Linked DNA regions of Homo sapiens: regions 1, 3 and 4 are each linked to region 2. Evidence: fine-mapped expression QTL. A gene starts in region 2. Each other region holds a variant in brackets. All regions are shown on one strand. Distances are from middle to middle.

What was found. PIP is the estimated chance that this variant, and not a neighbour inherited with it, causes the effect.
Region 1: its variant is fine-mapped to the expression of OSBPL2 in B cells (Fairfax 2012, PIP 0.95).
Region 3: its variant is fine-mapped to the expression of OSBPL2 in whole blood (TOPMed, PIP 0.94).
Region 4: its variant is fine-mapped to the expression of OSBPL2 in monocytes after LPS (Fairfax 2014, PIP 0.95). The same link has a PIP of 0.9 or more in B cells, CD4 T cells, NK cells and neutrophils.

The regions. Positions count from the first base shown.
Region 1 is chr20:62,265,858-62,270,857 of GRCh38, reverse strand. The region is part of intron 4 of OSBPL2 (oxysterol binding protein like 2); the gene reads right to left. Among named protein-coding and RNA genes, the nearest start is that of OSBPL2, 30 kb to the right of the region's middle. The variant G/A (reference allele first, on the strand shown) is at 2,710.
Region 2 is chr20:62,235,690-62,243,440 of GRCh38, reverse strand. OSBPL2 (oxysterol binding protein like 2) reads right to left here and starts at 4,920. Exons shown (of 14, transcript NM_144498.4): 1 at 4,844-4,920. LOC105369209 (a long non-coding RNA gene) reads right to left here. Exons shown (of 4, transcript NR_160555.1): 4 at 7,140-7,751. RefSeq lists an enhancer at 3,171-4,095 and a silencer at 4,793-5,192.
Region 3 is chr20:62,181,764-62,189,514 of GRCh38, reverse strand. MTG2 (mitochondrial ribosome associated GTPase 2) reads right to left here and starts at 6,487. Exons shown (of 7, transcript NM_015666.4): 1 at 6,458-6,487. It overlaps SS18L1 (SS18L1 subunit of BAF chromatin remodeling complex), which reads right to left. Exons shown (of 11, transcript NM_198935.3): 11 at 7,001-7,751. RefSeq lists silencers at 6,269-6,438, 6,445-6,629, 6,669-6,858. The variant CG/G (reference allele first, on the strand shown) is at 3,445.
Region 4 is chr20:62,293,692-62,301,309 of GRCh38, reverse strand. OSBPL2 (oxysterol binding protein like 2) reads right to left here. Exons shown (of 14, transcript NM_144498.4): 14 at 5,127-7,525. The coding sequence ends at 7,423. Among named protein-coding and RNA genes, the nearest start is that of ADRM1, 5.5 kb to the left of the region's middle. The variant CA/A (reference allele first, on the strand shown) is at 5,531.

The DNA of each region.
Region 1 (5,000 bases), 29 kb before region 2:
AGAGAGGGACAAGGAGAGGACCCAGAGAGGCCAGAGAGGGACAAGGAGAGGACCCAGAGAGGCCAGAGAGGGACAAGGAGAGGACCCAGAGAGGGACAAGGAGAGGACCCAGAGAGGCCAGAGAGGGACAAGGAGAGGACCCAGAGAGGCCAGAGAGGGACAAGGAGAGGACCCAGAGAGGGACAAGGAGAGGACCCAGAGAGGGACAAGGAGAGGACCCAGAGAGGTCAGAGAGGACCCAGAGAGGCCAGAGAGGGACAAGGAGAGGACCCAGAGAGGGACAAGGAGAGGACCCAGAGAGGCCAGGAGGGACAAGGAGAGGACCCAGAGAGGGACAAGGAGAGGACCCAGAGAGGCCAGAGAGGGACAAGGAGAGGACCCAGAGAGGGACAAGGAGAGGACCCAGAGAGGCCAGAGAGGGACAAGGAGAGGACCCAGAGAGGCCAGAGAGGGACAAGGAGAGGACCCAGAGAGGTCAGGGAGGGACAAGGAGAGGACCCAGAGAGGCCAGGAGGGACAAGGAGAGGACCCAGAGAGGCCAGGAGGGAGTGGAGGAGGAGGTGCTAGTGGCAACAGGGACATGGCAGGCTTTGGAATCCACTTGCTGTGGGTTCCCAGCTGACACACACATGAGCTGCTAAGCCTCTCAGGCTCCTCGTCTGCACCAGGGACTAGGACGGCCCCACCAAGGCCTCAGGACACCACAGGCACTGCATGCGCAGGGTGGACGGAGGGTGGGCGGGGTGTGCACAGCACCACAAGGACGCGCTCTGCCTGGGCCGCGAGGTTCCCAAAACTCAGCGTCCGTGCTGGGAGGGGGGCTCTGCTCAGACACTGGGTCAAGGACGAGTGCAGGGACCGAGGCTGAGAGCACAGGGCAGACGCACAGAGCCTGCGGCTCAGGCTGCTGCAGGGGCGAGCAGGCCCCAGATGGCACTGGACACACGGGGACTGTGGGCTTAGGAGGGGCTAGAACTGGATTCCAACTGAGGCAGCCCCGGCACATGGGTGTGGCCAAGACTGCACAAGGGAATGTGGCTGCCGAGGAAAGCAGGAAGAGAGGTGACCCTTGTGATCAGAGCTCGGCACTGCAAGAACACGTGGCAGAGAAAGAAGGAAGCCCCGAAAGAATGAGCAGAAAAGCAGACAGATGGGGGAGCATTTGCAATTTACATTCCAGACCAGGATCAACAGCCTCCCGTGCTCTAAACGCCTGGTAAACTAGAAGAGGCCACAGTCCACAGCGGCCAGAGATTGGGACCAGGGAGGCCGGGAAGTGCGGCCGGTGGCAGCCCTGAGCATGGGGGAGACGCTGCCTTGCTCAGGAGAGGAGAGATGGTATCGCAACTGTGTGCAACTCCCACCCAGGGAAAGCCCCCCGGCTGCTGTGGAAATGCACAGTGATGCAGCCCCACGAGGGGACTGGGCTGCTTCTAGCAAACTCTACGGGTATTTGCCCCTGACCCAGCAGCCCCACTTCTAGGAACCTATCCCACAGAGCCTCGGCCAAACACACATGCAGGGCTCTTTGCTGCCGCACGGCTGGATCCATGAAAGATCAGAAATGACCCGTATGTCCAACAACAGGGCGCCAGTCCAATAAGCTAGGTGGCAGCCATGTGAGGGAGCGCCGCGCCATTAAAAGATTCAGAAGTCGGCCAGGCGAGATGGCTCACGCCTGTAATTCCAACACTTTGCAGGGCCAAGGCGGGGAGGATCACTTAAGGCCAGGAGTTTAAGACCAGCCTGGGCAACAAAGTGAGACCCCGTCTCTACAAAAAAACATTTTTTTTTTTTTTGAGTTGGAGTCTCACACTGTCGCCTAGGCAGCAGTGCAATGGTGTGATCTCGGCTCAGTGCAACCTCTCCGCCTCCTGGGTTCAAGCGATTCGCCTGCCTCAGCCTCCCAAGTAGCTGGGATTACAGGCATGCACTGCCACACCCGGCTAATTTTTTGTATTTTTAGTAGAGACAGGGTTTCACTATGTTGACCAGACTGGTCTCGAACTCCTGACTTCGTGATCCGCCTGCCTCAGACTCCTAAAGTGCTGGGATTACAGGCGTGAGCCACTGCCAAAAAATTTTTTAAAAGTAGCTGGGCATGGTGGTGGGTTCCTGTAGTCCCAGCTACTCCAGAGGCTCATGTGGGAGGTTCACTTAAGCCCAGGAGTTTGAGGTTACAATGAGCCATGATCCTGCCACTGCACTCCAGACTGGGCGACACAGCAAGACTCAGTCTCTAAAAAGAAATAATAAATAAATAAATAGATTAAGAAGTCACTGCATGTTGCTATGGATATACTATTGAATTTTAAAAGGTGGAGAAAGCCTCTCATTTATGTAAAGAAGTGGGGAGAAGTGGGGAGAAGATACATGTAGAATCAGCTGTGTGACGCATGAAAGACATGCCCTAAACTTGGCTCCTGGTCACCTGTGGGGAAAGCAGAGAGCACCAGGAGGGGACAGGGACAGGAAGCTGACTCTCCTGGAATATACCTTGCTTGATAAATTTGATGCAGGACCCATAATTTAAAAAGAAAATTAAATTTTAAAAAGTCATCTCTCAATATCAAAAATGAAACAAATGAACCTATGTCATTCCTTTGGTGGCACAATCACCCAGCGAAGAAGCACCCAGGTGGTTTTAAAATGCAGTCATTTGGCCGGGCGCGGTGGCTCACGCTTGTAATCCCAACACTTTGGGAGGCC[G/A]AGGTGGGCGGATCACAAGGTCAGGAGTTTGAGACCAGCCTGGCCAATAAGGTGAAACCCCGTATCTACTAAAAATACAAAAAAAAAAAAAAAAAAAAATTAGCCGGGCACGGTGGCAGGCGCCTGTAGTCCCAGCTACTCAGGAGGCTGAGGCAGGAGAATTGCTTGAACCCAGGAGGCAGAGGTTGCAGTGAGCTGAGATCGCGCCACTGCACTCTAGCCTGGGCGACAGAGCGAGACTCCCTCAAAAAAATAAATAAATAAAAAATAATGCAGACATTTGAGATATACCCTGAAGACAATGACAAGTGGCAACTGCAGGAGGCACAGACATGTGCTGTCTCAGCAAAGACACTGTCGGCAGCAGAGCTGGTCCCACAGGTATGTGGGGCAAAGTGAGTGAGTCACAACTGCGTGCCGGTCTAAATCTGTCCTCGCCAGGGCTGCAGAAAACTGGGACTGTCAGTGAGGGAGAAAAGAGACGCAGACATGAGGCCGCAGAGGTTAGGTGGAGCCTGTTGGCCCAAATTTGAAGCATCACTGAAACAAACAAAAACACAGTTCCTAGCTGTAGGAACAGACCTCGAAATAAGACTACCCCGGTGGCCTCCTGAGAGCCCGGCTGTGGTCCTGAATTCTCCTTCTCTCCCTGGACAAGTAGATGATGCCAGACCCCAAACAGTAAACGCACAGGATAGGCCTGAAGCTCCTTTTGTAAAGGACTCCGGGCCACCTTGAAGAGACTCTCACTGACCAAAGATGGAACAATTTGTGGACTGGAAGACATCCAGAACTATCCCCGGCAATCAATAAAGGGTGATCATGTTGGCACAGCTCCAACTAGCAACTCCCAGTGAGTTAGTGGACCCAGACTCTGAGCGCCCACAGCTTTGTTTGTTTGTTAGAGACAGGGTCTCACTCTGTCACCCAGGCTGGAGTGTAGTAATGTGATCACCAGTCACTGCAGCCTCAACCTCCCAGGCTCAAGTGATCCTCCTACATCAGCCACCCGAGTAGCTGGGAGCCCAGGCATGCGCCACCATGCCCGGCTAATTCTTTTTTGTAGAGATGGGATCTCACTTTGTTGCCCGGGCTGGTTCTGAACCCGTAGCCTCGAGCGATCCTCTCGCCTCAGCCTCTGACAGTGATTATAGGCGTGAGCCGTCGCACGCCTGGCCTGCCCACAGCTTTTAAATTCAGAGAAAGAGCAACAAAAAGGCTTCCTGACAGAGGGACACAAACAAGGTCCAGACACAGGACTGCAAACACCAGAGGGCAACACGTGAGACCACTGGACATTTGAACATAGATTGAGTATCTGATGATATTAAATGACTTTCTAAAGTTATTTTCTAAAGTATAATAATAATATCACAGTCACATTAAAAAAGAATCCTTACCCTTTAAATATACATAAGAAATATTTACAAACAAAAGATGTCTGGAATTTGCTTCAAAATACGAGGGAGGAGAGAAGTGGGGGGTGTGGACCAAACAGAAAGAGCCACAGCCCGTCACTGCAGATCCAGAATGAGCCACAGCCAATCACTGCGGATCCAGAACGAGCCACAGCCAATCACCTCGGATCCAGAACGAGCCACAGCCAATCACTGCAGATCCAGAACGAGCCACAGCCAATCACTGCGGATCCAGAACGAGCCACAGCCAATCACTGCAGATCCAGCTATGGGGACATGAGCTCACCACTGTCTGAGTCTGTCTATGTTGGGACTGTCCACGTTGCCAAGTGTGCTTGTGTTTTTTCAATACAAGCTGAGAAGTAGTAAAAAGAGTGGAGTGCCACCAAAGCCTCCAAAGGGGAGTGTTTCAAAGTGAAGTGTAAGGGGTGGAGCTGCCCCACAAGGCCCCTCCCAGCGCCTTTCTACTATGCTTGCCAGTCCTACGTGCTCACATGAAACTTTCACCTCAATCTCTCCACAACCCTCACCTAGGGAATGCAATATACATCACTTCATGTTGTTGAAAAGATGCTTTTGGTCCTAGAATCTTTATTTATTTTTTTTTAAGAGACAAGGTTTCCCTCTGTCATCTAGGCTGGAGCACAGTGGTGAAATCACAGTTCACTGCAGCCTCAAACTCCTGGGCTCAAGCCATCCTCCTGTCTCAGCCTCCCCAGTAACTGGATGACAGACATGTGCCACCATGCCTGGCTAATCTTTTAAATTTTTTTGTAGAGTTGGGGTCTCACTATGTTGCCCAGGCTCTGGTCTCAAGCTCCTGGCCTCAAGCAATCCTCTTCCCTCAGCTTTCCTGAGGGCATGAGCTACTAC
Region 2 (7,751 bases):
GGGCTGCGGGGCAGGCGCTAGGGCTCCTCGGGCACCTCTGCACTGGGACCCCTCCCCTGGCCCCAGCTCAGGCACTGCCCTGGCTCTGCTTCCGCTCAGGTGTTCCAGCATTTCCCACAGGTGAGACTTACTTGGAAGACGGGTGATGATTACAGCGAGACTCCCAGCTCTGCTACATCATCAAGAGAGGCCAAGCCAGAGCCAGGGCACTCGCAGGAGCTCGCCACCACAGACGCAGCCCGTGTCCTCTTTCACAGTAAGAGGGTAGCCCCACGCCCTGTGCGCACCTGACACCTGCCGTCATTATCGGAGTCACCGAAATGTCACTGAATCACAGTCCCCCTAGTTTTAAGGCAATAATGGAAGTTGCTCTCTGGCCGAGCACAGTGGCACAAGGTCCCAGGTTACAGGGGGCTCTTTCTCACGATCAGCCTTGGATCAGCCTTAGGTTTATTCAGTACAAAGCACAGGCACTCACTTCCACACCATAGTCCTCCTTCCTCTACAGCTGCCTCCGTCTTTTCTGGAACCAAAACTCCACACAACTCCCTACACACTACAGTCCTCCCTGCCTGGTGCTCCTCCAAGAACTCCCCGTATGAGCCCACAACAGGCGCTCTCTGGGCACCCCTGAAGGTTGCAGTCCCAGCGCCTTTGATAAAGAAATGTGCTCAGTGTCTGCTCAGCCAAGAGCCCCTCAGACCCTTCCCACCCCTGACTTGCCTCAGCGTCGGGGCCACAGCCCCCAGGCCCTCAGTGCGCAGGTGAGAAGTACACACCTTACACCCAGGAGAGAGGCCTGATGACCGCCACAAGCCCTGAGGGTGCGGGAACCTCTTCAGGCCCCAAACTATGGAGCCAGCCACTAGCTCAACAGGACTGATCCCAGAGTTTGTTTCTCAAAATACATCAAGCGAGTGTTCCACTGAAAACAGAAGGCAAGCAAAGAGAAACAGCCACAAACATCAGGCACGAGTCTCAGATCCAGTCCCTTATAAAAGCTCACTTCCACCACTCAGCTCAACTCAGAGGTCACAGGATTTGCATCAGCAGAAGCTCCAGCGGAAAGAATGTGGATGCTGTGACATTCTGCTGAATGATCCCAAGTTCTTTTCTGAATCTGGAAGGAAAAGGAAAGAAGTGCCAAAAAGTTCACGCAAACAGTGCTGTGAGCTATTTAACAGATGCTTTTATTATCAAGAGCTGCAGAGGTGGGCCGGGACACCACCACGCTTCCACAGTGGGACCCTAGCCCAAACCAGCAGCCTGAGAGGCCGGGACACCATGCCTGAAACTCACTAGCAAGAACACTCTGAAAAAGCAAAAATGACAGCAGATTTACAAATCAACTAGCATATGTGGAAAGTGCATTTAAACTATCAAACCAGAACCCACCATATTAACTCAGGACTTCGGTCCTTTTTAATAATCAGTCATGTTCAAATACTGACTTCCTTTCAGTGTAGATAAGGTTATAAATCAACCTGAAAATGTACTACATATTGGAATTAAACCTCGTACCTGACAATCTGTGCTAAACACTAAACGAAATGTCAACACCCAAACAGGAAGTATGACAATGACTAGGAGAAAATCAGCCCACACCCAAAGATCCCGGGACACCTGAGGGTGTGACTGCTGCACTGCTGAGAGGCTCCAGCTTCAGCAGGTGTTGGAGCCAAGGGCGGCCCAGGCACCCACAACGTATCAGACACTTGATGTTATATTTTCACAGATTCCACATAGTAATCCGTCTTACAGGCAAAGACACTGAAGGCAGGAGCCAGTGGGAACCCACCCAGGACCCAAGAGCCCTGGTCTGGCGCACCACCTTCGCAAAGATGCTGTGACTCAGGAAGGCACGGCGCCAGCTGTGCCTGCACGGCCAGACAAGACATGGCTTGCATGGGGACATTAAAGAAATCACCTTGAGGAGATGGCAGCTTCCCTGCTTGAAGACAGCATAAGAACCTAAAATGTGTCAACAATTCCCTTATACAAAATGTCACTTTTGTAATTGGCTGAATGTACTAAAACTTTAAAAGTCGAGCAAGCTTTAATGACAAATCCAAGACCCAAAATTAGCCAGGTGTGGTGGCGGGCGCCTGTAGTCCCAGCTACTTGGGAGGCTGAGGCAGGAGAATGGTGTGAACCCGGGAGGCAGAGCTTGCAGTGAGCTGAGTTCGCGTTTGCAGTGAGCCGAGTTCGCGCCACTGCACTCCAGCCTGGGCGACAGAGCGAGACTCCATCTCAAAAAAAAAAAAATTCCAAGACCCATCTGCTGGCATCTCCTGGACGGCACAGAGGAGAGACACTGGGATGAAAGTCAAGTGGCATTTTTTTCACATTCAAACAGCACCTCTCATTAACATGTGGAACACAGCAGAGTCTGACCCTCTCAACGCACTCGAGGCGTGGAAGAAAAATGTCCTACGTGTGTACTCTAAGGCAGTGTGTGAAGTCCCCTGGAACTGAACTCAGAACGGAGACCTCAGAGTCTGGACTGTACGCCTGTCAGCACCCATGCCCCTCAGTCCTCCCTCTTCACACAGAGACCACCACTGAATCTGCCAGTAACAAAGGAGCTGGGTGGCAGGGAAGGTATTCTGGCAAAATCCTGAATGGTCAAACGGTAAATTACTTTATTTCAGAAAAAATGAAATGGCTTTGTAAACACTCAGGCTCACAAAAAAGAAAGTCTATTAGTTCTATATGTAGCAAAATCCCGAAATTCTGACACAGAGTAATGCAGCATGATTAGAATATTCTAAACGAAAATGTTAAATGAAAATCTTGATATTAAAAGGCAGTACAGGGTAGTGTTTAAGAGTGTGAACCCTGGAGCCTGGGTTCAAATCCATATTTCATAATTTACTGCTGTGTGGTTTAGGTAAGTTACTTAACCTCTCTGTTCCTTAGCTTCCTCATGAATGAACTAAGGATAATGTCAGTACCTGCCCAGTGGACTGTTGTGAAGATCACACAAAGAAAGTGAATACGACATGCTCGTAACAGTCCTGGAACAATCATTATTAAATATTATCGTCTGCTGGGGTAAGAGCTGTCATTAATAGATGGACACATGAAGAAAACAGGGTAAATTCTATGAGGGAGACTCAGTCACTCACTCACTCATTGCCACATTCTAAAAGACGACACTGTGGCAGGCACTGGGCTGGGCAGGGAGGAAGTGCCACCGACAAAGTTCCTGTCCTCAACAAGGGGAAGGTAACTGGCATTCCGGGGTGCGCACTAGGTGTCAGAGACTGTGGTAGAAAATGATTTCATGGCAGGGCGCGGTGGCTCGCACCTGGAATCCTAGCACTTTGGGAGGCTGAGGCAGGCGGATCCCTTGAGGTTAGGAGTTCGAGACCAGCCTGGCCAACATGGTAAAACCCCATCTCTACTAAAAATAAAAAAATTAGGCGGGCGTGGTGGCCGGCGCCTGTGGTCCCAGCTAGATGGGAGGCTAAGGCAGGAGAATGGCTTGAAGCCGGGAGACGGAGGTGGCAGTGAGTCAAGATCGCACCACTGCACTCCAGCCTGGGCAACAAAGCGAGACTCCATCTCAAAACATAAAACAAGAAAATGATCTCGTTTGCTTCTCTTATCAGCAAAGTGCTACATGTCCGGATGAAGGAGTTGAGGCTGACAGCCAGAAAAGAGGCCATGGGCACGAGTTAGGAAGGGCAGCAGGGACGGCCGTGGCTTCCCAGCATGTGGCCCCTGCACCAGTTCCGGGCTCCTCAACTCTCCGCTGTCCTCACCACACATCCAGCTGGTGGGAAGGCCGCACAGCACCCAGCCAGGCCCACAGCAGGCATTCGAGAAACGTCTATCCAACCAAACCGAATGGGACCCCTTCTCCAGGTGTTCCGGGCAGTCATCCCAAAGCTGCCGGAGCCAGGCTAGGCCAGGGCCTGTCCTAGAGGACGGTTCAGATAGAAACGCCCCTGGGAGGTGACCCTCACCCCAGGAGAGCCTGCAACACCCCGACACCCACTGCCTCGTCGCCGGTCCTCCCATGAAGCGGGGAGGCTGAGGTGCTGTGACGACCTAACAGTCTTGGTCTGGGCTTATAAACTTGGAAAGTCTAAAGACGTATTCTTCTGAGTACCAAAATATAACTGGCGAAAGAAGGAACCTCTTAAAATTACATTACCAAAGATAGGTTTTAGGTAGCAAGTTCTCAACCGTGTGTAGTCTGCTAAGATTTATAAATTAAAAACAAAAACAGAGCCCAGGGGAACGGACAAGGGCTCGCGGGCACCCTCCCCGGGACGACGTGCACACAGGCCTGCGGGACAAGAAGGCCAGGGTCGGAGTGGGACTGCGTCTCCCTGCCCTTCTTCCCGGCGGAACTCGCCCTCCTCACCTACAGGATCGCCCTAAATGCGCACGAAATCCTTCCCTGTTCCCGGTGAGGTGGTGAGAGAGGGCGAGGCCGCGAGCAGGTGCGCCCGTCCCCACTTCCTGCTCAGCGGGGCAGCAGGGGGGCTGGGGATCTCGGGGGGGCCGGGCCGGGGGTCCCGGGATCGCAGTTGCCGGGCGACCGCAGGGGGAAGGGTGCGGGGGCCGCGGGACCCAGGCCCAGGCCCCACGCCCGGCCGGAACTTTCCTCCCAAAGTTTCCCCGGGGCGCCAGGCTGCGGCCTAGGCCGGGCGCGCCTCCCAGTGGGGGTCGAGGCCGGGGCCGGGGCCGGGGCTGGAGGCGGCCTGCGGACCCGGGTCCTGCCCGGCCCGCCCTCCCCTCCCCGCCCCGGCTCCAGCCCCAGCCCGCGGCCCAGGCCCCGCAGCTCGCCGGGGTCCCGGGCCTTCGCGTGGCGGCGGCGGGGGCCACTCACCTGGACGCGGGTCCCTCGGTTGCCGGCCGAGCTCACTGCCGCCCCGCCCCCGCCCCGTAGGCCCGCGACCCACTGACACCGAGGCGGAAGTGCGGCCCGCCGCCTCGCCGACTGACAGCCCGCGCCCGCCACTCGCTGCGCCCGGCGCCGCCGCGTCGGCCGCTGCCTGCCCAATCAGCGCCCGGCCCGAGGCTCGCGCCGGGGGGTGGGACTATGCTAATCCCTTCGCGAAGGGCCTCTACCTGTGCCCCCTCAGAGCCCCGCCCACGCAGCGGAGTGACGGCAAGGACAGCCAGTCACAGCAGGAGAGAGGCGGGGTTATGCCGCCCCTGAGCCAAAAGGGGAGGGAGGCAAGGAGGAAAGGGCGTGGCTGCAGAGAGCAGAGTTGACAAACAGTGAGTCAGGTGGCCCGGGGCGTGGGTGCTCCGCCCTCAGGTGCACTGCGTCCTGGCGGCAGTGCGGGCCTGCGAGGCTACCCAAAGCCCTGGGGGCTTTTTCCTACAAATGCTGGGGACCGTGCGATAGCTGGGGCGTAGCTGCTTCCACTGTCCTACCAAATCCTGAATATCGTCCACCTCCTTTGCATGCCATTCACCGCCAACCAAAATCCAGCGCCAATTTACCCCTCCAGCTGCATCCCCGACCGTTTCACCACCATACTTAAAACCCTTTGGACTCCCACTGACCTACAGTGGCTCCAGGGTTAAGCCCAGAAGTTCTGGAATCAGACCTGGAGCTTGCATTCTTTACCAGCTGTGTGGATTTGGACAAATTAATTAACCTCTCTGAGTCTGTGATCACTCAGTTTCATCTGCAAACCAGGGTTCCCCTGTCAACATCTCATTGAAGTCATGGGTCTGGTTTGAGGTGAGTGGAGTGGCATAAACCAGGCTGGCTACATAGTCACAGCAGTTGGTTTAGGGGTCAGCCTGTGACCCAGTTCTAGCCAAAGAGGCTCAGTCCTGGGACTTTTGCTGTAGGGTCAGAGTTCAGACCGGAGGGGAGGCTGAAGTCAAATGACTCTCCCATCTGCCCACAGACCTCTCCAGAGCTGGGTTAGGTGAGAGAGGGAAGGGGCCAGTCTTCCACATCTCACTACCCGAGAACAGGGCTGCACGAGAATGAAGCCAGCCCAGAGGAAAGCCGGAGCAACCACGGCCGGGTCACGTGGACCCTGCTGCACCTCAGCAGGTCCTTTCCTTGACTTTTCAGTTACGTGAACCACATGCTTGTTTCTGCTTCAGCCCATTTGAGGTAAAGCCAAGAGTCCTGGGCTTCCTGTGGCCTTGAGAGCTCTGGCAGATGACCCGTGACCCCGCAGTGCGTCCTGCAGCAAAGCCAGCCCCCGTTGGGCCTCTGCACCCCCTCCTCAGGCCTTGTCTCCCCACTTCCAGGCTGCCCCTAGCAGGGCCATGGAGGCAGGGACAGGCCTTTGCCCCATCTGTGGCCCCGTGGCAGACGTGGGTACTCTCTATAAATTTCAGGGCATGAGTGAGCCAATGAACGTGGCCTCTGTGGCAGGGGTGGGGCCCAGGCCACATCTCTGGGCCCAGCAGGGCCGTTCTCCCCCACCCCAGGGGCTGGCCCCACTCACTGGTGGGCCACTGTCAGTCGGCGCCACTAGAGACGTGCCGGGACCAGGAAGGAGCTGGCTGAGCCTCTCCTGAAGAGAGAACGGGGAGGAGGGCGGGCAGGCCTCAGAAACAAAGGGGTTGCCATGGTTACCTCTGAAGAAAGCGACTCCAGCCGGTGAAAGGGAAGGGAAGGCGTGCGGCCCCCAAGCCAGGACAAGGACGATGAGGCCAGTTGCCACGGAGATGACTGCGCTCCACAGCTTTCCCTGTGGGCCTTGCCAGGGCCAGCTCAGGGTCCCAGAAACCCATCACTCTCCATGTCCCTCACCCTAAGTCTCTAAGACTCTAACCCCTGTGCCCTTGAGGGGATCCAACCTGCCCACCCACCCCTTGACCACGAGCTCTGCAGTGAGGGCAGCCTCAGAGGCTCAGGCAGAAGGACCCTCTCATCTGCCCAGGGACCACCCCAGGGCCAAGCAGGGAGATCCACCCTGGCCTTGGGGTTGGGGGTGTGATCTCAGATGGCCCCTGGGCTGGAGCAGGGGTTTCACCCCTCTCCACAAATGCAGTAACTGAGCTTCAAGGGTAGTCTGCCGTCAGCCAGCACTGCTGGAGACGTGCCAGGACTGGGAAGGGTACTTCCTCCCCGGGGCCAGTTGCTGGGACTAGGCGAGAATCCTCCCTCAGTTGGTGGGTAGTAAGGAGGGTGCCTTGAGACCAACTTAGGCGTCTTTGTTATGATCTTTACTAGGTCACGAGGCCAATTCAAGAGGCACAGTTCTCCAAGGATGGAAGATGGGGGTGGAGAAGGCAACAAAGATGGATGAGCTGGGGCCATGATGATGAGGATGATGATGTTGATGATGATGATGGTGATGGCGGCCGAGTGCCCTGTGATTTACAGGCCCATCTGGTTTCATGTTTGCAACAGCCAATCAAGTGGGTACCAGGTGCCATCATTCCCACTTTACAGATGAGAAGACTGAGCCCCAGACAGGTTAAGTGACTCCCCCAGCCCTGCAATGAGGAAGGGCCCAGCACAGCTCCAGGCACAACAAGCAGGCACTCCAAGCATAGGGAGGTCTGGTGGACCAGGCCTGGCCCAGGAGCTTGTCGGCAAGGCAGAGCCGCATCCAGGCTCCCGGACCAGGATCCGCACACGAACAACAGGCCCAGGAGTTCCCATGGCTGTGGCTGCTGGACCCCCGCACCAGGTGGGCTGGCGGCTGTGTCCCACACATGCTCTCTAGAGCCTGAGAAATGCTCATCCTGCAGGTGATTTGGGGGGTGTCTGCTCCCACCTTCACTGCTCTCAGACCAAATTTCTGCTTCCT
Region 3 (7,751 bases), 54 kb after region 2:
TCGGCAAAATAGCAAGACTCCTGTCTCTACCAAAGGAATTAGCTGGGCATGGTGGCGCACCCCTATAGTCCCAGCTACTTTGGAGGCTGAGGTGGGAGAATCACTTGAGCCCATGAATTCAAAGCTGCTATGAGCTATGAATATGCCACCGCACTCCAGCCTGAGCAATAGAATGAGAGAAAGAGACACTTTTTTTTCTTTTTTTTTTTTGAGACAGAGTCTCACTCTGTCACCCAAGCTGGAGCACAGTGACATAATCACAGCTCATTACAGCCTTGACTTCCTGTACTTAAGAGATCCTCCTGCCTCAGCCTCCTGAGTAGCTGGGGCTACAGGTAAGTGCCACTGTGCCTAATTTTTAAATTTTTTTTGCAGAGACAGGGTCTCCCAGTTACCCAGGCTGGTCTCAAGCGATCCTTCTGTCTTGGCCTCCCAAAGTGCTGAGATTACAAGCATGAGCCACCACACCTGGCCTGAGACCCTGTCTAAAAATAGAAAAATAAAAACAGTAAAGACATAAAATCTGAACAATACTATCAAAACATTTATCTAGTTGACATTTACATAACAGTACATCCAACAACTGTACAATATACACTGTTTTCAGGTACAGGTGGAAGTCATCAAACAGACCATAAGATGTGTCATAAGTCTCAATACATTGAGAAGAAATCATAGTCAGTCCTCCGTATCTGTGGGGTCAACAAACCTCACGTCAAAAATATCTGGAAAACAAACAAAAAAACCAGTAACAATACAACAATTTTTTTAATTTAAAAAATAAAGTATAACAGCTATTTACATAGCATTTACATTGTATTGTACTATAAATAATCTAGAGATTACTTGAAGTATACAGAAAGGCCCGGTACAGTGGCTCACACCTGTAATCCCAGCAGTTTGAGAGGCCAAGGCAGGAGAAAAACTTGAGGCCAGGAATTTGAGAACAGCCTGGGCAAAATAGCGAGACCTTGTGTCTACCAAAAAAAAAAAAAAAAAAAAAAAATTAGCTGATTAGCTGGACATGGTGGTGCATGCCTATAATACCAGCTACTTAGGAGGCTAAGGTGGGAGGATCACTTAAGCCCAGGAGTTGGAGGCTGCAGTGAACCATGATCACACACTGCACTCCAGCCTGTGTGACAGAGCTTCTGTGGTGGGGCTGGGGGGAAGTATATGAATACCAACCACAGGGTCTATTCTCGGAATTAAATTGGAAGTCAATAGCTAGAAAATATCTAGGAAAATCCCAAATACCTGCAAATCAAACAAGCTTCTTCTAAATAATCCATAGGCCAAAGAAGAAATCAAAAGAGAAATTACAAAATGTTTTGAACTGAATTATAATGGAAATGCAAAATACCAGAATTTTTTTTTTTTTTTTTTGAGACAGTCTCGCACTGTCGCCCAGGCTGGAGTGCAGTGGTGTGATCTCGGCCCACTGAAAGTTCTGCCTCCCGGGTTCACGCCATTCTCCTGCCTCAGCCTCCCGAGTAGCTGGGACTACAGGCGCCCGCCACCATGAAATACCAGAATTTAAGAGATGCAGCTAGAGTAGTGTTTAGAAGGAAACTTACAGCTCTAATGGCTACCTTGGTAAAGAAGAAAGATCTAAAATCAGTAACCTAAGGCTCCAAATCAAGAAACCAGAAAGAGCAAAGTAAGCGTCGAGTAGAAGGAGGAGAATAATACAGAGCAGAAATAAAGAGACAACAATAACATGTAACAGAAAAAAACAGGTTCACTGAAAAGACAAGCTAACTAACACACTTCTAGCCTGATCAGGAAAACGAGAGAGCGCAAACCTCCACTGTCAGGAATGTTCAACGGGTTATCAGGACACACCTTACAGACAGCCAGAGGGCAAGAGAATGCTGGGAACGACTTCATGCCAGCAAATTCAGTAACAAATTCAACTTACATGAAATGGACAAATTTCTTGAAAAAGGCAACTTATTAAAGAAACACAAGAATAAACAATCTAGAATAGCCCTGTATCTACTCAATAAGTTAAATTTCTTATAAAAGAACACTCCCCAAAGGAAAACTCTAGCTCGGCTTGTTTTCCTGGTAAATTCCATGTAACATTCCAGGAAGAAACAGTGCCAATCTTACACAAGCTTTTTCAGAAAATAGAGGAAGTGAGATCACTATCCAACTCATCCTATGAGGCTAGTACCAAAATCTGACACTAAGAAAAAATAAAATTATAGACCATACCCCTCATGAATATAGATGCAAATAACTCTTAACAAAATATTACCCAATTGAATCCAGCAGTTCAGAAAGGATCACACATCAAGACCTAGTAGGGGTAATCTCAGAACACAAGGCCACATCAAGCAGTCAAAACTCAGCCCAGGCACTTCACTATATCAACAGGTGGTACCACCGTCTCAACACCCACTCATGAGGAGGAAAACAAAACATCTCAGCAAACTGGGAACAGACGGGAACATCTTCGCCCTGATAAGGGCACTACGTAGGGCCGGCCGACAGCTAATCACATTTAATGAAGAAATACTGAATGGTTACCTCCCAAGATGGAGAAAAAGGGCCTCCACACATACCACTGCTATGCAACAATGTCCTTTCACACACTGAAATAAAGGGGGAAAAAAGGAAGAAGTAAAACTGTCCCTGTTTACAGAAGAGAGGACAGAGTTCCACAGAGAATCCCAGGGAAGGCTGGGCACGGTGGCTCATGCCTGTAATCCCAGCACTTTGGGAGGCCGAGGTGGGCGGATCATTTGAGATCAGGAGTTCAAGACCAGCGTGGCCAACATGGTGAAACCCCATCTCTACTAAAAATATAAAAATTAGCCAGGCGTGGTGGCACGTGCCTGTAGTCCCGGCTACTCGGGAGGCTGAGGCAGGAGAATCGCTTGAACCTGGGAGGCAGACGCTGCCGTGAGCCGAGATCACGTTACCGCACTCCAGCCTGGGTGACAGAGCAAGACTCCATCTCAAAAAAAAAAAAAAAAAACAAAAAAAAAAGTCCCAGGGAAGGGAACTGAGCAAGATGGCATGTTATCAGGCTAATATAAAAAAATCAGTTGTATTCTTAAATACCAGCCGCAAACAACTGTAAATTAAAATTAAGAAAAAACCCCATTTATGGTAGTGCCAAATACAAAAAGTACCTGAAAATAATTTCACAGTAAACCTTCAAGACCTCTACCTCACTACTTGCAAAATACTGTTCTAAGTATTTTTCAGGGATTAACTCATTCAGTCCTCATAAAACTCTGTGAAGTAAGTCCTTCATCATCCTCATTTTAAAGTTGCGGAAACTGGGCAGACAGGTGAAGAGACTTAACCCAGAGCTATCAGATGGGAAGGCTCAGGGGTGGTGCATAAAAACAGGTTGGGGAAAAACAACTCGGGCTCATCAACACAAGCATAGCCACGGCTCAGCCTGCTGGAACGTTACACCATCCAGCC[CG/G]GATATTCTGGAAACCAGGCTTCCTGATGCAGGTGACATGGAACCTGCAGATCAACCGCAGAGAAGGTTGCAAAGCCAACCAGAGACCTGAACTCGGAGTCTTGCCTAATTTGCTTCCTCCTTTTTGCCCTTTCAATTTCTCTTTGGAGGCCCGCTGAGTGCTGTGCTCTCTCCCCTGCCGGATGAACAAATCCCACTGTTTTCACGCTGCTCTTTGGTGTCTTTATTTTCCTTCCAACAAGGCTGTCCTTGACCTGTCCAGCACAGTCCCCACTGGCCAAATGTGGCCATTTGGCTAAAATTAACTGAAATGTAAAAACTCAGTCCCTGAGGTAACATCTAAGTGCACACAGCCACATGTCACGAGTGGGTACATATGGGACAGCACATATTAGAACACTGCCCTCATCACAGAAAGGTTTTTTTTTGAGACAAGAGTCTCACTCTGTCTCACTCCCAGGCTGGAGTGCAATAGCATGATCTCACCTCACTGCAACCTTCGCCTCCTGGGTTCAAGCAATTCTTGTGCTTCAGCGTTCCAAGAAGCTGGGATTACAGGCACCCATCACCACGCTCAGCTAATTTGTGTACATACATATACATGTATATATATGTATGTGTATATATTTTATTTTTTATTTTTTATTTTTATTTTTTTTGGAGACAGTCTCGCTCTGTCGCCCAGGCTGGAGTGCAGTGGCATGATCTCAGCTCACTGCAACCTCTGCCTCCCGGGTTCAAGGGATTCTCCTGCCTCAACCTCCCGAGTAGCTGGGATTACAGCTGCATGCCACCACGCCCAGCTAATTTTTGTATTTTTAGTAGAGACAGGGTTTCACCATGTTGGCCAGGCTGGTCTTGAACTCCTGATCTCGTGATCCGCCCACCTCAGCCTCCCAAATTGCTGGGATTACAAGCATCAGCCACCACGCCCTGGCCATTTTTTTTCTTTTTTATTTGAGGCAGAGTTTCACTCTTGTAGCCCAGGTTGGAGAGCAATGGTGGGATCTTGGCTCACTGTAACCTCCGCCTCATGGGTTCAAGTGATCCACTCGCCTCAGCCTCCCGAGTACCTGGGATTACATGCACCCACCACCACACCCAGCTCATTTTTGTATTTTTAATAGAGACGGGGTTTCACCGTGTTGGCCAGGCTGGTCTTGAACTCCCGACTTCAGGAAATCCACCTGCCTCGGCCCCCCAAAGTGCTGGGATTACAGGCGCGAGCCACCACACCCAACCAATATATCCACTTTTAAATGTATTCCTAACGATAATACCCTGCGAGGGGTAATACTGCATGCCGAGCTATCTTCCATTTGCTTTTCCAGACCAGCTTTCCACCCTGCCCTGTGCTGTGTGTCAGGAGCCTGAGCTTGCCCCATAGGAAAACCTACTGGGACCTGGCCCTCTACCAGAGACTGGAGGCAGGAGCAGGAGGCCGGGACATGGACCTCCCTGCCCACTCAGACTGAGGCTCACACCTCCAGTCCAAGAAGCCCTCCCCAGTGACTCTTCTCCCTGTCCCGATCACTGCTGCCTTCCCTGATCCTTTGGAGTCCAGGAGTAGAAACTCCACTGCCACCAGTTCCAGGCTAAAGGACCAACTGTCATTAACCTGCACTCTGCCTTTGCAAACGGTCCCTTTATAAACCCTCCTCAAATCCTCCTGTGAGCATGAAACCTGATTTTTTTTTTTTGGGTATGTTTTTGAGACAGAGTCTCGCTCTGTTGCCTAGGCTGGAGCAGAGTGGTGCGGTCTCGGCTCACTGCAACCTCCACCTCCCAGGTTCAAGCGATTCTCCTGCCTCAGCCTCCCCAGTAGCTGGGATTACAGGCGCCTGCCACCACGCCCGGCTACTTTTTTGTATTTTTAGTAGAGATGGGGTTTCACCATGTTGGCCAGGCTGGTCTTTAACTCCTGACCTCGTGATCTGCCCGCCTTGGCCTCCCAAAGTTCTGGGATTACAGGCGTGAGCCACCGCGCCCAGCGGAAACCTGATTCTTGACTTTACATTTTTTATGCCCATCTAAAGCAGTGGAGGCTGAGACTCACAGAGGTTCAGTCACTTGCCCAAAGTCACATAGTATCCTCTGGCCTCCCTGGCATGCTGCTGACACCTGCATTTTACGGCAGGAATCTTCTCACTGAGGTTCGCCTACACAGACTTCCCAAGGGACTAAGGCCAGGATAATTTCAAAGGAATCCATTTTCTGCCCAAGTTTCGCTACGTTCTCTCTGCTAAAACAGAACTGCCTGAGGACGAACCTGCGTTTAAAACAATTTGAATTCTCCTTTCCCGTCCCCCTTTTATAATGGGTCCTCCCCTTTACAAAAGAAAGGTATTTCTCTAGTGACACTGCCCAACAACCCCTCTAATTCCCACCTACAGGTCTGTGTGAACGCCGTTCCTCGGTATCCACAGCTACGAGAACGTAAATGGGAATAGAACGGGTAACCCGCTCTCACTGGGCAGAAGCCAGCCACGGACAGTGAATTATCTGGAAATGCGTCTCCCTGAGGCGCGTTTACAATACAAAACTTTATTGTTGTTTTATCATCCAAATGTGTATATATTTATGTTGTTTTGTGCAACTGTATACTGCCAATAATCACTTTAAAATGTTTAATACTTAGAGCGCTGGATCAAGGCAAATTCCTAACAACTTGACTCGGAACTCACACACGGCACCCATCCCGTGACAGAGCACCACCGGGGTGGCTGACAAGACTTCTGACCCCAAAACGCGGTTCTGCGGAGAGAGTGGGGCAGGACCGGGGAGCAAGGCGCCGCTCCCCACCGCCCGAGCGCTCGCTACTCCAGGGCCGCAGCGCTCGGTCCCGCCGGGGTTCGCAGCCCGGCAGCCCTCCAGGCCTCTCAGCTCCTAGGCCGGGGCCTCTCCCGCTCCCAGCGCCCCGGTACCCCGCGGCCCAAGCCGAGGCCCCTCCTTGCGCCCGGGCCGCGACCACCCCCCAGGCCCACGCTCCCCGCTCCCCGCTCCCGCACTCACCGGCTCGGGAAAGCACGTCACTTCCGGAGCGTCGCAAGCGGCCGACCACTTCCGGGGCCTTTTGGCTCCGGAAGCCCAAGGCTTGCCCAGTGCGCAGGTGCAGAAAACACGCCGACGGACCGAGAGGCGACCTTGTCCCTGGTAGCGGAAGCAGGAGCAACGGCAGGAGGGATGCGGAGCGCTCAGCTGCAGCCGCGCTTCTCGCCGGCGCCCTCGCTGCCCGAGCACAAGGACAGCCGCCCCGCCCGTTCCACCCGGTGCCCAAGGTCCCCCAGCTTCTCTGACCCCTCCGGCGTTTGCGGAACCTCCCGGGTCTGACGAGGACACCGCCGTTGCCCGAGGAGGCTACGGGGCAACGCAGAGCAGGCAGTGGGGACCGCAGGGCAGCCCCGGGGCGCCGTCCCCACCGCCCTTACCCTGGCTTCGCCTTGCCGCCGCGGGGAATCCGGTGCGGACGCACGCGAACTCTGCCCGGGAGCCGAGGTGACGATCTACCTGGTCTCGGTAATAAGTATTTGCAAAACACATCACACCAAAATCCCGTTAACTTCATGAAAACTCACTTTATAGGATGATTTTTGAAGAACCAGTTTATTAAGAGATTACACCAAAAGCATAAACAATTTATACGTCAAACTCCGACTGAAAAAAAAATAACCGATAAGGATGTTTTTTAAATGTACTGTACTCACAAATAACAAGACAAATTTGACCTGTTCAATAAATAGAAATGAAGTGGCTAAAAATGTTTAAATGGAAATGGAAAACAGTCGTCTTCTTTGTACAGTTTTGAAGGGGTGCCCCCTATTCACGCCTACACGTAGAAAAACCCTGACAAAATCAGAGGTTCACTTAACACTCCAACCATATGAGCGTATTAAGGTTTCTTTTCAGATCTTAGGAGATCTTGTCCACCTTAATCCCATTCACAGATCTTAGGAGATCTTGTCCACCTTAATCCCATCATAAAGACTGTTGGCATGAGTTCTGATGTACTGTTTTAATATGCTGAGTACTGTTGATTCAACAACAAACCTTAATGGGTGATGAGCTTTTGCATACCAATATGAATTTGTCAGCACTTCTGAAAACTGGCCATCATTTTTCAAATTCACAATTTGCTGGATGTCAGGGAACAATAGGAAGAAGAATGAGCGTCAATTTTCATGTCTTCCTTTGCTTCTTCACTGGCCTTCCATAGAAGTAGTCAGAAAAAAACAAAGCACCATCAACCACACTTCACAAACAATTCATGTTGGCCTAAGCTTTGCTCAACATTCATATGACAGAAGAT
Region 4 (7,618 bases), 58 kb before region 2:
ATTCTGCAGGGAGCCTACTACTCAGGCCTCCATTGTCTCGGTGGCAGAGCTTGTGCCAGTTATGTTTAGTTGCCAGCTTTTGACTGTCATAATGCTTCCATTTGAAACATTGATTGAGCTAAAGATTCACGTTTTTTGTTTTGGAAAATGTAGCCACTTTTCATTTTAAAATGTGTGTTAACAGGTAGTAAGTTTGTTATTGTTATTTTTATGTAGCTAAATAATTTTAAATGTCCTCTTAATTCCTAGTATGGTAAATGTCAATAGATAAAGCTCACATAAACAAAAGCTCTTTGGGGTCCTGTATAATTTTTAAGAATTTAAACGGTTCCAGAAGCTAAAGGGCTTGAGAGGGGCTAACACAAAGCTCTGTGGCCCGCTGGTGACAGGTGCGTCACTGATACTGCAGCCCCATCCTCGTGCCCTCGTGTAAAACAGGGAAAAGGTGGAAATGAGAAAACCCAGCCTGGCTTTCCCGGCAAGAAGGTGGCAAGCGTCACTTGTTTATGTCACAGACAGTAAAGCAGAAGCCCCAGGGTCCGCAGGGGCCAAGTGTGCAGAGGCCAACGCAGTGGCCAAGAGGACCCTGGATTTACCATTTCCTCCACTTCCTGGAGGCCCTGTGGCCTGGGATGGCTCAAACAACCCCAGAACTCTTTACCCACACTTCAAGCGAAACTCCCACATTCCTATGAGCATGCTGCAGTGAGGAAACGAGCCGCAGCCAGGCAGGCTTTGCAGAGGCCACTGTGGGTGCCCGCTGCCAGCCCACGGGCTCTATGCGTGTGTGGGGTATGGCACCTGGAGCACCCAGCAGCCCAGGACTCCAGCTGTGGCCACAGAGTGGGTGGGGGGGCACACGCTGCTTTGTGTCAGGAATCTCGGACTTGAAGCACACACAAGGTCAGAAGGGCTGTGTGACATGTGCAGCTGTCCCTATCTTCTAATTGGTCGCTGATGGCAGTTGGTGGGACGTCTGCAAAATGCCCGCAGCATCTAGAGGAGCAGCCTCACCGGGACACGCGCATTCAGCTAAAGGATTTGGACTAAGAGATCCCCCAAAAGAGATTTCTATTCATCCTGTTTAGCAAAAAAAAAACAACCCCAGACTTGCATGATGGCTCACACCTGCAATCCCAGCACTTTGGGAGGCCGAGCTGAGAGGGTCCCTTGAAGCCCAGGAGTTCCAAGACCAGCTTAATCAAGACAGTGAGACCCTGTCTTTAGAAAAAGACAAATTAAAAAAGAGCCAGCCATGGCGGTGCATGCCTGTAGTCTCAGCTACTTGGGAGGCTGAGGTGAAGGTCAAGGCTGGCGGTGAGCCGTGATGGCACCACTGCACTGCAGCCTGGGTGACAGAGCGAGACCCTGTCTCAAAAAAGCCCCAAACTGTAAAGAAAGCACACCCTGATGCTCTCCACGTGCTGCAGGCTCCTCGGGTGAAAGGTGGGCGGCAGAGCCCAGGCTGCGCCTCCACGTGGGCAGAAGACACCTCCGGATGTTTCACCAAAGAGGTCACAGGCAGCAAAGGCACCATGGCAAGCTGCTCAACACCATTATTCATGAGGGAAATGCAAATGAAATACACCTGCTGGAACTTAGCAAACGATGGAAGGTGCCAGGCAAAGTTGGAAACACCAATGGCACGGCTACTTCGGAAAAGCATTTGGCAGGGGTAGGGTTTTTTAAACTTTTTTTTTTTTTTTTTTTTTTTTGAGATGGAATCTCACTCTATCCCATAGGCTGGAGTGCAGTGGCTTGATCTCAGCTCATTGCAGCCCCCGCCTCCTGAGTTCAAGCAGTTCTCCTACCTCAGCCTCCTGAGTAGCTGGGATTACAGGCATGTGTCACCAGACCCGGTTAATTTTTGTATTTTTATTAGAGACAGGGTTTCACCATGTGGGCCAGGTTGGTCTCGAACTCCTGAGCTTGAGCGATCCACCCGCCTCAACCTCCCAAAGGCTGGGATTACAGGTGTGAGCCACTGCACCTTGTGGGTTTTTTTTTTTTTTAACATTTTAAAAATAGACAAGTCACAACTGAGTGGAAGGCAGAGAGTTCTGGTCCCCCTGGGTGTTCGGTGAGCTACGCCGCCACCGGGTCAGCGCCCAGAGCCCGCCATTCGCGTCGAGGTCCACGTCGGTCCATCTGTGCTGCCACCACTGACCAGGCAGTTTACAAAGAAGCGAAACGTACTTTCTCACAGTTCTGCAGGTCCGGAAGTCAGCGTCAGTGGGGCGGCAGGCCTGGTTGTCTGGTGAGCGCTGTCCTCACCTGGCGTGGCACTGATGCTCTGTGGGGCAGACCAGGCAGTGTGGGAGGAGCCTCTGGCTCCGGGCTCAGGCAATGGTGGTGGAGCCCCACAGCCAAACCCCTGGAGCATTCCGAGAGCATGGACGTCTTGTGGACCGTGTGTCCCTCTGCCCCAGCCACACTGACCACTGGGACGACTGAGTCTGCTCAGCTTACGCTCCTGAAAAGCACGAAGGTGCTGGGGCAACTTACGGCAGAAGGCAGGCAGCTGAAACCTGGGGCACCGGGCCCTTCGCTGCTTCTAGCAGTAGCGTCCCCCCGCCAGGGGAGGGGGGTCCATCAGAGCCTCCTGCTGCTTGGAGAACCTGGGTGCTCCACCCATCACATGTGCCGCCCGACAGGTGTCACGAGTGTCCCCCAGCCCCCTCTCCACAGGGCAGTTTTTGGAAATGAGCCATTTGCTTGGCCAATCCTCAGGAACACGCGGTCCAAACTTCTGATAACCAGGCATGAGGACTCATCCTTAGCAGATTTGTAGCCCTTTTCAAAATGGCCAGAGCGGCTGAGATGGTGAAAAATTGCTCAGTGTAAAACAAAGGTCACCTGCTGCCCATCTTCAGAGAATCTTCATTCAAATCTTAGAGGTTAACATTTATTTTCACAGATGTGTACACAGCCCTCTGAAAAATCTGAGGATGACTGTGTTAATGCAGTTTGGCACTGACAGTTGTTAAATATTATAAAATAAGTGCGTTCTGCTGGCATCTTTTCTCAGCTGCCATGTCCTTGCTGCCTGCTGGGATGAATGGCACTGGAGGAGGAGCTGGGTGAAGGCACGGGGAGGGGTGAGGGCCTGCAAGGTGTGGGCGACAGGAAAGCCCGGCTGCACACCATCGCCCTCTGCAGAGCCACCGTCGTGCTCCTAAACATCTGGCCACGGCAGCCTGGCTCCCAAAGCTCACCAAGCGAAGGACCGACTGTGAAGTGAACTTCGTACCCAGAGCTGGCAAATGTGGCTTTCGCCTCACAGAAATTTTACATCAGCCTGTAGAAGACGGTGAGGAACCATCTTTTGAGGGGTCCGAGGGAGACCCAGCTCCCGTGCTGCCTGGCAAGCAGCAGGAGCCACCGCCACGTTCTCGGCCACGGCAGGGGCCCCGTCTTTTGTGTCCACTTTACACACAGGCAAGTCCAGATGTGGCCATCAAAGAAAACTGGGACCATCAGGACTTCCTGCAGATGGATCGAACTCTCCTCTGGGGTCCAGCTGCGCCCCTCGTCCACATCTGTGCTGGCTGGAGGGTCAGGGCTCCACTCTGCCCGACAAGCAGTCTGGTGCAGGGGACGCAAATGTCACACCCAGCAGGGCCCGGCACTTGGAGACCTGAACTCTGTCGCCCAGCTCAGTGGGAAGCTCACCAGAACTCGTAACTGTCTTTGCTTTGTTTTCCTTCACGGAAATGACAAGGACCTGTAAAACTTGTAAATCCCCATTTCTGCTGGGGAGAAATTTTCCCCAAAGAGCAGGATGCCTTGTGAGGAGGCCTCCAGGCGTTTCTCTTGTCCTGTTCTAACCTCCTGACCTTGTGTTCAGATGTGCCTGGCAAACCGGGGCAGGTCCTTGGTGTTCAAGGCCAATGCCCCAGATGGACAGCTCCATGCTCAGACACGTGGACAGTGGGGTGCCCGGAGGCCACCAGGGTGGCATGTGGCACTTCTCCAAGTGCCGGGCCCTGCTGGGTCTGACATTTGCGTCCCCTGCACCAGACTGCTTGTCGGGCAGAGTGGAGCCCTGACCCTCCAGCCAGCACAGATGTGAGCTCTGGGGATGGCGTCTGGAAGGGGTGGTGGTGACCGGGAGCACCTGCAGGCACCACTCTTCCTGTACCGGCTTTCCCACTTGCCGCCGGAGGCTGGGAAACTCACGGTACACACAGGCACCTCCCCACGACCAAGGCATCTGGGCCGCTGGCTCGCTCTCCTCCCAGACAGCAGTCTCGGGAGGGTCTGGCTTCAGGACAGCCTGCACCAGCAAAATGCCGGATGTCCATCAGGGCTGGGGACCAGGGCCAGCTGTCCCCCACTTCCCACAACCCAAGCCTCGCCCGGTGAGAAGGCTGCAGGTGTTGGTGACACCCGACCCTTCACCGTCCTTGGACACTAGGGCAGGGCAGACGTCGCCACGTGGCCAGCGACTCAGATCCACACCGTCATCCCAGGTGAGCCTGGTGAGCAGCAGCATGTGCTATGTTGCCAACACGTGCTTTGCATGTGGCTCTCCGTGCTTTGCATATGGCTCTCCGGGAGGCATGCCTGTTCACCGTTCTGTCTCCAGCAGCTCACAATACATACACCCTGAACCAATGACCATAGAACCGAATTCTCATTTCAATTAGCAATAGAATCCAACCAAGGTATTAGGTTCTGTTGGGGAATAAGCTTGCTAGGTTTTTCATTCTGTAAGGACATCCTACATGACAGGATTAATTTTTTAAAAGAACCAAGGGCCTGGCACAGTGGCTCACACCTGTAATCCCAGCACTTTGGGAGGCTGAGGCAGGAGGATTGCTTGAGCCCAGGAGTTCAAGACCAGCTTGGGCAACACAGTGAGATCCTGTCTCTACAAAATTGTTTTAAAAAAATAGCTGGGTTTGGTGGCATGTGCCTATGGTCCTAGCTACTTGGGAGGCTGAGGCTGGAGGACTGCTTGAGCCCAGGATGTCGAGGCTGCAGTGAGCTATGACTGCACCACTGCACTCGAGCCTGGGCAACTGACCCTATCTCTAAAAGTGAATAAAGCACCAAGACCCTTGGTCAAGGCCATACTCACACCCAAACGCGTGGCCCACGAGAAGGCCATCACTTTCCACACATTAAGTGGTGGCCATCTTTATTAGAGATGTTTAACATTCAATAGATATCCAAGGTGACAAAAGTTAGGTCATGGTTTATGTGTTAGCATTTGCAGAAACAGTAACAAAAAGTAGTAAAAAGTTAAAATAACCTCGACACACAGCCGCTTTTGCCATCAGCCTTCCTACCGTTCTTCCTCCACCTCTGGTTTGGTGTCTGTCCTCAAGGACAGCAGAAGAGGGGCTGTCTGTGCAGCCAACCAGCCCCTGAAATACCAGGAGCCTGGTCCTAGAAGAGGACTTGGAAACAAACCCGTGGGCAAATTATCTTAACCAGTAACAAGTGGAATGATCAGTAAGAACTCGTTAAACCTCCCTAAATGCAGTCACTTTCAATGTGTCTGAGTCTCACCTCTGGATGTTCT[CA/A]GCTTGCAACCTTTCTTGGAGAAGGAGCCGGTTCACAACCACAGTCTGGAAAAGCAGATGACCCTCCACCAGAGGCACCTGGGCTCCACATTCCAGCCATCGGGGAATTTCAAAGTCTCCTCTTTGAATAACGCCACAATCCTGAATCCTCAGACCCAGCTACCAGTCACGGAGCGGTTCTGTTCAGACACTTTTGAGTGGCTGGTACGGAGCTCATAGGCCCCGAGGATGACACAGGACTCGGCACCAAACACCATCGCTTCCAGCTTCCAAAGCTACAAAATCAAGCTTTCAAAACGAGTGTTCACTTCCAGAAGTGCTTCCGTCACAGGTGTGATGTGGACGCCAAGACACACGCAGGTGGCACCTGTCACTCAGAAGTGCCGGCCTGAGTAACCTGGACTCCATGCAACCGCGTGTCAGCGTGTGCATGAGTGTGTGCGTGCGTGCACACAACCGACGGTCTTTCAAAGTGCTCCACTGTGATCTCTCGTGTTGACAATTCTACATGAAAAAAAATCAGTCACGGCCAGGCGCAGTGGCTCACGCCTGTAATCCCAGCACTTTGGGAGGTTGAGGCAGGCAGACTACTTGAGGTCGGGAGTTTGAGACCAGCCTGACCAACATGGTGAAAACCCGTGTCTACTAAAAATACAAAATCAGCCAGGTGTGGTGGCGCGTGCCTGTAATCCCAGCTACTTGGGAGGCTGAGGCAGGAGAATCGCTTGAACCCGGGAGGCGGAGGTTGCGGTGAGCCGAGATCATGCCATTGCACTCCAGCCTGGGCAACAAGAGTGAAACTCCGTCTCAAAAAAAAAAAAAAAAGGAAAGAAAAGAAAAAAAAATCAGTCACTTGATAAAGGTGAATGCTGAGATGGACACATACCTATTTTTGGTTAAATAACTTTAATTACACCACTGTAAGTAGATTCTGCCTCTGACCCTCCCACAGGACACAACCGGATGTGATTCTTGTCACTTCTATTTTAAACATGCATACTGGGAAAAACAGAAACACAAGAGTGCTATGGGTACACGCGACGTGTGAGAAGAAAGGAACCCCCTGGAGACACGGACGCGGTGTGCGGTGACAGCCAGGCCTCACTGACAACAGGGCAGCGAATCGCAGCCGGGACGCCTCTGAGGCGGAAGCAGTCTTGGGATTTCCTGTCACGCTCTCGATGCTTCTGCCCACTCTGGTTTGTCACGGGGATGCTTCATTTTGGACAGTATAAAACCGGTGATTAATGCATATCTTGCTCTTCAGCAAAATACTATTCAAGTAGTTTTAACTTAAATATTTTAAAAGTAATCTTTACATTATTGAAGATTGTTAAAAAATACAGAATCTGACAACTTTTCACTCAATCTGATGCTCTGAAACTCTTCACTTCTGTTTTATCATAATTTAGAAGGCAATCCCTGGCCTCTATAAAACTCTCTGCAGGATTAGCTTCAAGATCCATCTTTCCCCCACTGGTTCGAGTTTAAAAGGCTTTCAGAACCTTTTGCCACTGCATTATAAAGAGAACATGAACCCCTTCCCATTACTTCCTTTAGCTACACATGCTATGACTGAGAGTGTGCTGGAAGCTAAACAAGCCCCAGCTGATTTCTGCCACATAAAAGGGCGCCGTGAAGAATTTCCCTGTTGAAACCTTAATGAAGACGATGATCCCAAGTGAAGCTTTATGAAGAGACGGCACAGCAGAGTGAAATGTTTGGCAATCAACAGTTAATTAGAATTACATCCTTGATCAGGGATGATGCTATCTCCGCGAACTCAGTCGTTAGAAAAGTTGGTTTCTGCTGTGACGAGGCTCACAGTGGCCACTCGAGGAAGTCCAGCCTCGTCAGCCTCCGGTCCCGGGCCCCAGGCCCCTCCAGGCCCTCAGTAGATATCTGGGCAGTCGGAGAAATTCCGCTCAAAGTAATCCCCTGCATACAACCAGTCGGGGGTCCCAGTGTAGGGGTTATTGCCTGGGTAGAACCACCTGCCGGATACAAGGGAGGGGGGTCAGAAGATGCTCAGCCCAAAAGGAAAACGCAGCCCTGTTCTGGGTGCAGGAGTGTGTTCCCCCAACTCA